Regions from separate parts of the Homo sapiens genome. Here all the other regions are linked to region 3. The links come from fine-mapping of genetic effects on gene expression. A gene starts in region 3. Each other region holds a variant in brackets. All regions are shown on one strand. Distances are between the middles of the regions.

Region 1 (2,748 bases), 650 kb before region 3:
GGCCCCGCAACTGGCCCTGGGGTCTTTCCTTCTTCCTCGGCTTCTCCCCTCCTCCTGCAAATCCCCCTCCTCCTTCAGAAGCAGCCCCCAGGTGTGGACACAGCACATTGCTGAGGGTGCCCCTGAGCACCCACCTTCTTCTGGGACGGACCGGCGCCCAGCGGACACTGGAAGCATCTGAACTGGTGTGCAGTGCAGCCCTGATTTCCCGTGGGCTCCTCCCTTTCCCGTGGGCTCTGCGCTTTCTCGTGGGCTCCTTCCTTTCCCGCGGGCTCTGCACTTTCCCACTGGGCTCCTCGCTTTCCCGTGGGCTCCTCGCTTTCCCAGTGGGCTCCGCGCTTTCCCTTGGGCTCCGCGCTTTCCTGGTGGGCTCCTCACTTTCCTACTGAGCTCCTCGCTTTCCCGTGGGCTCTGTGCTCGCTCCCAGGACCAGCAGTCACTGTCCCTCCATGTGCTCACCTTGGGGCACCGGGCACTGGCTCCTGCCTGATTTATGGTCTTCCCCGCCCTGGTCTCAGCTGCCCCAGGGGCGCTGGCCCCGTCTTCACCTCACGCCCCCAAATGAATTACAGGAGCCACCTGGGGAGAAGTTTTAAGAGGAGAAAAATACCTTATGATCGAAAACTATGAAGAAGTAAAATAGCAGCTAGGAGCAGCTCCCCTAACCAATCCCTGGCTTCCACGGGCCAGTGGCCAACACCTGGCCAGACGGGCCAGCAGCCTCCTGCCAGGGCCCTGGGCTAACAGCTGAGGCCACCTGCACCCAGGAAGTTTCGTAGTGATTTTCAAGGTCTGGTTACCGAAAGGGCGAAGGGATGCTGGGCACTGGGGGAAATGCTGACCTCCAGCCTCCACCCCCACGGTGAGGAGCGTGAAGCCCCAGGGTGGGTGGGGAGATTCCTTGCAAAGGTGGCCCCGTCCCTGCACCCCTCACCCCTGCTGCTCCCCCACGAGGAGTGGGAACCCCTCATCCATGCCCACACAGGGGCCCTGCTGCTCCCCCACAAGGAGTGGGAAACTTGCAGTTTTCCGGGAGGGACTGTGCACCAACTCCAGCTTAGGCCTCCAGGGGCTCAGCCCCAGCTCTCCAAAGCTTCCATCGCCATGGAGACAGCAGGATCAGCAGAGCAGGGGGAGCCCATGAGGGCATGGCTGTGTCCAGCCTGGAGCGAGGTAGGGCAGGGGGTGAGGGGTGAAGCCC[G/A]GGGCCCAGGCTTGGCGGGGTGATGGGAATGAGGCAACCTGGCCCAAGGACCCAAAGCTGATGGAGACCCACAGACAAGGGGAGGTTGAGGAGCTGCAGGGTCTCCTGGTGGTGGTGGGGGTCTGGGACCACCCAGCCTCAAAAAGGCTGTGAGAATCACAGGAGTGTTTGAGACACCCCACAATTAAGGGGCATGGCGGGGACCAAGCAGGGTCCCAGAGCCCAGAGCAGAGACGGTGGGAAGGACGGGCTGTGGACGAGGATGGGTTCTGACAAGAGGAGGGTGACAGAGCGGGGCGGCCATGGCGGCAGGAGGGCTGCAGGGGCAGGGGAGGGAGTGAGGTCAGTGGGAGCTGGGGAGAGGACAGGGCGGGAGGGCTTGAGGGGCTGCTGAAGGTATGCACTGAGGCCTGCAGAGAAGCCAAAAAACGCTGGGTTTTGGGTGCCCCCATAGAAACACAGGGCCCAAAGGGAAACGGGGAGCCCCTCTCTACCCGGGACCCGCCCTCAAGGGTGGCTGGATGAAGTGTGTCTGGGGGCTTATGGTGGTGGTCACGCTCCAGGCCCATCCTGGACCGGGGATTCTGGGCCCAGGAAAGCTGCTGGAGCCTGTGGTCACCTTTGACCCCTGCGGCCTGGCTGCTCCTGACAGCATGAGTTGATTCAAGGACAAAGCCAGGACCCCTGGCTTGGAGGGACAGTCCCACAACCCCTGGGTCCCAGGCTGGCACACGTGCCTCCTGGGCCACCCCCACCTGCCCCCCACCGCTAGCACCCCACTCTCTACCCTCCCAGGCCAGCGCACTGCCTCCTGGGCCAGCACCCCCACCTGCCCCCACCGCCGGCGCCCCGCTCTCTACCCTCCCAGGCCAGCACACATGACTCCTGGGCCAGCACCCCCGTCCCCGCCGGCACTTCACTTTCTACCTTTGCTCTTCTTCCCCGGCCATGTCTCCTGCTCTGGTCCTGGGGCCGGAAGTCAGCGCTCTGTGCAGATGAGCTTGGGGCAGCCCACGCCCTGCAAACCCTGCCAGGCTTCTGAGCAGCCGTTGACCTGCCCTGCTCCCCTGATGCCTACCTGGGGGGCAAGAAGCCTAAGTCCAGCCCCCTTCCACAGGGTCCCTTTAGCTTCTAGGGACGCATGGGGGTGGGGTCCAGGTCCCCTGGCCCAAGGGCTGGAGGTGCCAGGGGCTCTTTGATTGCAGGAAGGGAGCCCCAGACAAGTAAGGGAAGGCCAAGGGGGCATGAGGAGGCTTGACGGTGTCTGCCTGGTGCGGGGTCCCCACCCTGCTCCTTAGGCCAGGCCGTGTGGCCCCCTCTTCTGGGCTCTGCCCACTGGGCTGCCCAAGGGCCTGGTGCACTCGGCCTTATCCAGCCTCCTGGCTGTGAGGCTGGAGCATCCTTTGCACGGTGGCTCCATCTCCCCTCTGCACCGTAAGGGCTGACGTCTCCAAGGGCTTCTGCGATGGGGGCCCTCTTTGCAGGCGGAGTCTGCTGGCCCTGACTTGTCCTGGGGTGCTTGAGTGTCCCAGGAGGCCCAAAGAAGA
Region 2 (2,748 bases), 22 kb after region 3:
CACTGGAAGCTGCTGCATTTGCTGGTCCCTCAGGGACTTGCCAGACCAACTAAAATGCACGACCCCAGACTTTTGGAGGACAAGGTCTCCTGCCCACCATGGTCCCAGCCAGCAGCTCCAGGAACACAGGCTGGGCTCCCTGCAGTGGAGGCGGGGTTGAGGAATGCTGGGGTGGCAGCTACTCACCGTGTGCTTCCCAGGGAGCATCACCTGTTCCTCTGAAGCCCTGCCTGGGTGGCTTGAGCTTGGAATCAAGCTGACCCATTTTGAGAGAGTGGATTCTGAGCTTTTTCCTAGCGTAAGGTCGTTTTGATAAAGGAGTGGTCCTTTGGACATCCCTGTTCTGCCGTCCTGATACCTCTAGTTGTGGGTTTTATGTGTAGCACAGGGTGAAGCTTTAGTTCTCAGAACCCACCCCTGCTGTACCCTGTGCCCTCGCCCTCCGCTGTGTTTGCCCTGACCCTCCTGTACCCTGCGTCCTCGCCCTCTGCTGTGCTCACCCGACCCTGCTGTACCCTGCGCCCTCGTCCTCTGCCGTTTGCCCCTGACCCTGCTGTACCATGCCCTCGCCCTCTGCTGTGTTCACCCTGACCCTGCTGTACCCTGCGCCCTCACCCTCTGCTGTGTTCACCTGACCCTGCTGTGTCCTGCGCCCTTGCCCTCTGCTGTGCTCGCCCTGACCCTGCTGTACCCCGCTGTACCCTGCGCCCTCGCCCTCTGCTGTGTTCACCCCGACCCTGCTGTACCCTGCGCCCTCATCCTCTGCTGTGCCCTCCCCCTCTGCTGTGTTCGCCCTGACCCTGCTGTACCCTGCGCCCTCGCCCTCTGCTGTGTTTGCCCTGACCCTGCTGTACCCTGCGCCCTCGCCCTCTGCTGTGTTCACCCCTGACCCTGCTGTGTCCTGCGCCCTTGCCCTCTGCTGTGCTCGCCCCTGAGGCCTCCTGTCCAGAGTTGCTCTGGCTTTGGTGGCTTCAGGTAGATTCTGAGGGTCAGTCAGCACAGAAGCAACTCAGGGAAGCTTCAGAAAAGACCATTTCTCAGGTTGGAGAGACAAAAAACATTTTGCAAATGGAGATCAGAAACCATTGAATTTGGGAACCTCTTTTTTTCAGAGTCTCTGGTAAGAAGAGTGAAAGCAAAGAAGCCAAGAAGTCTGAAGAACCAAGAATTCGGAAGAAGCCGGGACCCAAGCCCGGATGGAAGAAGAAGCTTCGTTGTGAGAGGTGATGCCTGCAACGCGAGGCTCGCCCTGCCTGTCGGGGCCGGGGCTCCATGCATGCTCTTCATTGCAGGGAGGAGCTTCCCACCATCTACAAGTGTCCTTACCAGGGCTGCACGGCCGTGTACCGAGGCGCTGACGGCATGAAGGTGAGCACTGGCTGTGCCTGACCCAGGCCCGGCAGCTGTCAGTGTGAACCTGGGGGAGGTAGCAGGTGTTTCTGCAGCCTAACTCAGACTTG[C/T]GCCCAAGGACACTTTGACCTAGGTTAACCGAGACCTGAAGCAGTCCTAGCCAGTGCCATCCTTGGGGGTAGATGTGAGGCCAGACTTTCACTTGAGACACCCCCCGGGGGGTCTAGAAGTTTCTTGGAGTGAAGCTGTGAAGGAGCCAGTGGTGTCGCTGGAGGAGGAGTTGGATCTGCCTTCCAGGGGCCTCAGCTGTCACCTACTGAGGGCTCGTGCCATGTGGCCCGGGTGCGGCTCTGAGGGTCTCTCACCGAGTCTCTCCTTCAGAAGCACATCAAGGAGCACCACGAGGAGGTCCGGGAGCGGCCCTGCCCCCACCCTGGCTGCAACAAGGTTTTCATGATCGACCGCTACCTGCAGCGCCACGTGAAGCTCATCCACACAGGTACGCCTATCGCCAGTGTCGCCCACGCGGGTGACAGCCAGGGGCACGTGACCTGCTTTCCAGTCTTCCTCATACCCATCCCCGCCCCAAGAGTTGGGGGTGCGTGAAGGTGGCTCATGGGGTCTTTGGTACTCAGTCACGTTGGTAGATGAAGGCTAGAGTAGGGCGTCAGTGTGAATCTGCCCTTCCCTGTGATGGAAGGAATTCCTGACTTCCCCAGGATCTAGGCAGTTTGTCAAAACTAATAGCCAAGCAATCTTGGTGTCCTTTTGCAAATTGGTCATTTTATTTTTTAATTTTTTTTTGAGACGGAGTCCTGCTCTGTTGCCCAGGCTGGAGTGCAGTGGCACCATCTTGGCTCACCACAACCTCTGCCTCCCAGGTTCAATCAATTCTCCCGCCTCAGCCTCCCAAGTAGCTGGGATTACAGGCACCCGCAACCATGCCTGGCTAATTTTTGTAATTTTTGGTAGAGACGGGGTTTCACCATGTTGGCCAGGGTGATCTCTAACTCCTGACCTCAAGTGATCTCAGCCTTCCAAAGTGCAGAGATTACAGGTGTGAGCACTGCACCTGGCCCAAACAAGTGTATCTTAAAAGGCAAGGCAGAAGGCATGAAGGCACACCAGCTCTGGGGAGCTGCCCACGTGGACAGGCGGGAGGCACGTGTGGTTCTGCCTTTTCACATGTGTGTAGGTCGTGTCATTAAGACCGGAGGCGGATGGGGGAATTATGACTGAGGGTGCTGTCTCTGTGCCCGTCTTATTTTTCACAATTTCTATAATGCACAAGTTACTTTTATAATCCAACAAGGATATGTTTTCAAAATGACAAACTTGGCCGGGCGTGGTGGCTCACACCTGTAATCCCAGCACTTTGGGAGGCTGAGGTGGGTGGAT
Region 3 (2,748 bases):
CAGCTGCTGCAGCTGGGGCTCCGGCTGTACCCCACGGCCCCGGCCCTGCCGCTCAGACGTCCCCAGGAACTGCTCCAGGTCCTCGAACGAGCTGTCCTTGTCTGGCAATCCAGATGCGGTGTCCCCCAGGGGTGAGGGAGACCCCACGGGGCCGGGTTGGAGTGGGGGCGTGGGGGGACTGTCCTGGGGCCGCGGGGCTGCGCTGGGCTCGGGCGGGGACAGCATGCAATGGAGGCTCTGCGAGGGCCGCAGCCGTCGGCTTCCGGGGTTGGGGGTCGGGGGGCAGCAGCCTGGGGCTGGCGCGGCTGCTCTGCTCACGGCGGGATACAGGGCGCTGTACACGGAGCACTGCAGCCGCCTCAGGAGCTGCGCGATCGGGTGGTCGGGGAGGCTGCGGGAGAAGAGGACGTGAGAACGCGGCCAGCCTCGGCCTCTCCGTGGCATCCACAGGTGCCGCGCTATGCCCGGTTTCAGAGAAGCGACTTGCATTACCTCCTGACAGTGAATGTTGGAAAGTCTGCCCCCCGCCCCCGCTGGGGAGGTTGGAGAAGCCGAGGAAACGCCCTCAGCGCAAAGGGAGCTGCAGTGTCCACGTGGCCGGGCACAGGCTCCCTGTGTCAGTCCAGCCCCTCTCCGGCACCTGGCACCAGGCAGAGGTGCCCAAGGCCGGTGCGCAGGGGCTCTGTGGGGCCTGAAGGCCCAGCTACCTGAGCAGGTGTGAGACCAGGCTGGTCACGAGTGACAGGTCCCCCGGATTCCTCTTGAGCTTGGCCTTCCAGTGCTTCGGCCAGTCCTACGGGACAGGGGGCCTTGAAGGAAAGCACGGTGGGTCCGCCACGACCGGACGCGCCTCATCTCCCACCAGTGCCGACCCCTAGAGACTGTGGGAGCCCGTCCTGGGGTGCAGGAGACCCAGCGCCAGCAGGCCCCGCGACCCGCCCCCGCCCCCACCCACACCCGAGGGAAACCTTAGGCGAACCCTGGGCCTGCACCCTCGCTGGGACCCTCCCTCCTCGCAGGGACCCTCCCTCCTCGCTGGGACCCTCCCACGCGACCCCTGACCTCGCCTCCTCGCTCTGCCCCGCCCCACGCAGCCCTGGCCCCGCCCCCTCACCGGGCCCTCCCACGGGCCTCTGGCCCCGCCCCCTCACTGCCCCCCACAGCCTCTGGCTCCGCCCCCCACGGGGGCCCACCCAGGCGGCTCTGACCCCGCCCCCCTCGCTGGGCTCCTCCTACAAAGCCTGGGCCCGTGGGGGACGCACATGGTCCTGTTCGTACTCCAGGATGGCGGCGTAAAGGGCCCGCTGCTCCCGTTCCTCCGGGGTCAGGGCGACTTGGCTGCAAAACCTCCTGGGGAGAAAGGCACGCGGTGGGTGCCGGGGCCAGGCCCTCCCCGCAGCGGCCCCAGGGGCGGGCAGGAGTCCCACCTGTTGGCGGCCTCCTGGAGCCGCAGCCGGCGCTCCTCCATCTTTCTCTGGAGCTGGGTGCAGAGTCAAGGGGCCGAGCGTGGGATCTGAGCGGGCCCTCGGTTCCCAACCCCGTCCCACACCCGGAGAGGCCGGGACGTCCCAGGGACCTCCTCTCGGTGAGGGGCTGTCCCCAGGTAAGGCTTCTGGGGCAGAAGGCAGCCTGCGCTCAAGCCAGGAGGGCCGGGCCAGAGAACATGGGGGACGGCGGCCGGGCCTTCCCCTGAGACCCTGCCTCTGCAAAGCGGGGAGCCCCTCGGCCCTGTACCCCGACCCCGGAACCTCCGCTCCCCTCGCTGCCCCCTTCTCTGCCCTTGGCTCAAGGCCACACTGAGTTTCCCCTCGGGGACCACCAGGGCGGTCAGAAAGGCTGCTGTCTCCTCCCGGGCTTTGGCAATCACTAGGTTCTCCATCATCTGCCGCTGTAGAGAGAGGGTCTGGGGGGGGAGGAGGGAGTAAGGCCGACTCCCCTCTGCCCCGCGCCCACGCACCCCCAGGCCCTCCCTAGCCCCCACTCACCAGGGATGTCTTCTGCATGGCCTGGCTGGGGTCTAGCCGCGCCATTCGGGCCTCATACGCAGCCTTCAGCTTCTGATTCTGCAGGGAGGCCTCCTCCAGTGGCGTCAGCTCTCTGGAAATGTGACAAGCTGCTGTCTAGACCCCAGGAAGCCCAGTGGTGTCTGGACACCAGAGGAGTCTCTCTCATCCTCCCGGATTGCTCTGAGGCCAGGAGGTGAGGAGAAAGAGGAGGGGAGCCATCTGGGGTGGGCTGCAACATCTGCCCCTTCTTGCCTGCCCTTCCAAAACACAGGTTTTGGCCAGGTGCAGTGGCTCCCGCCTCTAATGCCAGCACTTTAGGAGGCTAAGGCCGGGCGGATCACCTGAGGTCAGGAGTTCGAGACCAGCCTGGCCAACATGGTGAAACTCTGTCTCTACTAAAAATACAAAAATTAGCTGGGCATGGTGCACACTTGTAATCCCAGCTACTCGGGAGGCTGAGGCAGAATAGCTTGATCCCGGGAGGTGATGCAGTGAGCCGAGATCTGGCCACTGCACTCCAGCTGGGGTGATAGAGTGAGACTCTGTCTCAAAAAAACAAAACCAAAACAAAAAATAACAAAAAGAAAGAAAACACAGGTTTTGGTATTGCCAGGACTTTTGGTTTTTCTTTTTTTCTTTTTTTTTTTGAGACGGAGTCTCGCTCTGTCGCCCAGGCTGGAGCGCAGTGGCGCAATCTCGGCTCACTGCAAACTCCGCCTCCCGGGTTCATGCCATTCTCCTG

What was found.
Region 1: its variant is fine-mapped to the expression of VPS9D1-AS1 in monocytes after R848 (Quach 2016, PIP 0.95).
Region 2: its variant is fine-mapped to the expression of VPS9D1-AS1 in tibial nerve (GTEx, PIP above 0.99).

What each region holds. Positions count from the first base shown.
Region 1 is chr16:89,061,051-89,063,798 of GRCh38, forward strand. LOC105371411 (a long non-coding RNA gene) reads right to left here. Exons shown (of 3, transcript XR_001752336.2): 1 at 2,129-2,748; 2 at 460-579. Among named protein-coding and RNA genes, the nearest start is that of ACSF3, 31 kb to the right of the region's middle. The variant G/A (reference allele first, on the strand shown) is at 1,202.
Region 2 is chr16:89,732,190-89,734,937 of GRCh38, forward strand. ZNF276 (zinc finger protein 276) reads left to right here. Exons shown (of 11, transcript NM_001113525.2): 7 at 1,113-1,223; 8 at 1,293-1,368; 9 at 1,732-1,849. Among named protein-coding and RNA genes, the nearest start is that of ZNF276, 12 kb to the left of the region's middle. The variant C/T (reference allele first, on the strand shown) is at 1,461.
Region 3 is chr16:89,710,620-89,713,367 of GRCh38, forward strand. VPS9D1-AS1 (VPS9D1 antisense RNA 1) reads left to right here and starts at 1,237. Exons shown (of 4, transcript NR_036480.1): 1 at 1,237-1,603; 2 at 2,070-2,199. VPS9D1 (VPS9 domain containing 1) reads right to left here. Exons shown (of 15, transcript NM_004913.3): 5 at 1,986-2,097; 6 at 1,841-1,903; 7 at 1,428-1,480; 8 at 1,263-1,350; 9 at 708-793; 10 at 1-391. RefSeq lists enhancers at 68-631, 2,129-2,228 and a silencer at 1,069-1,488.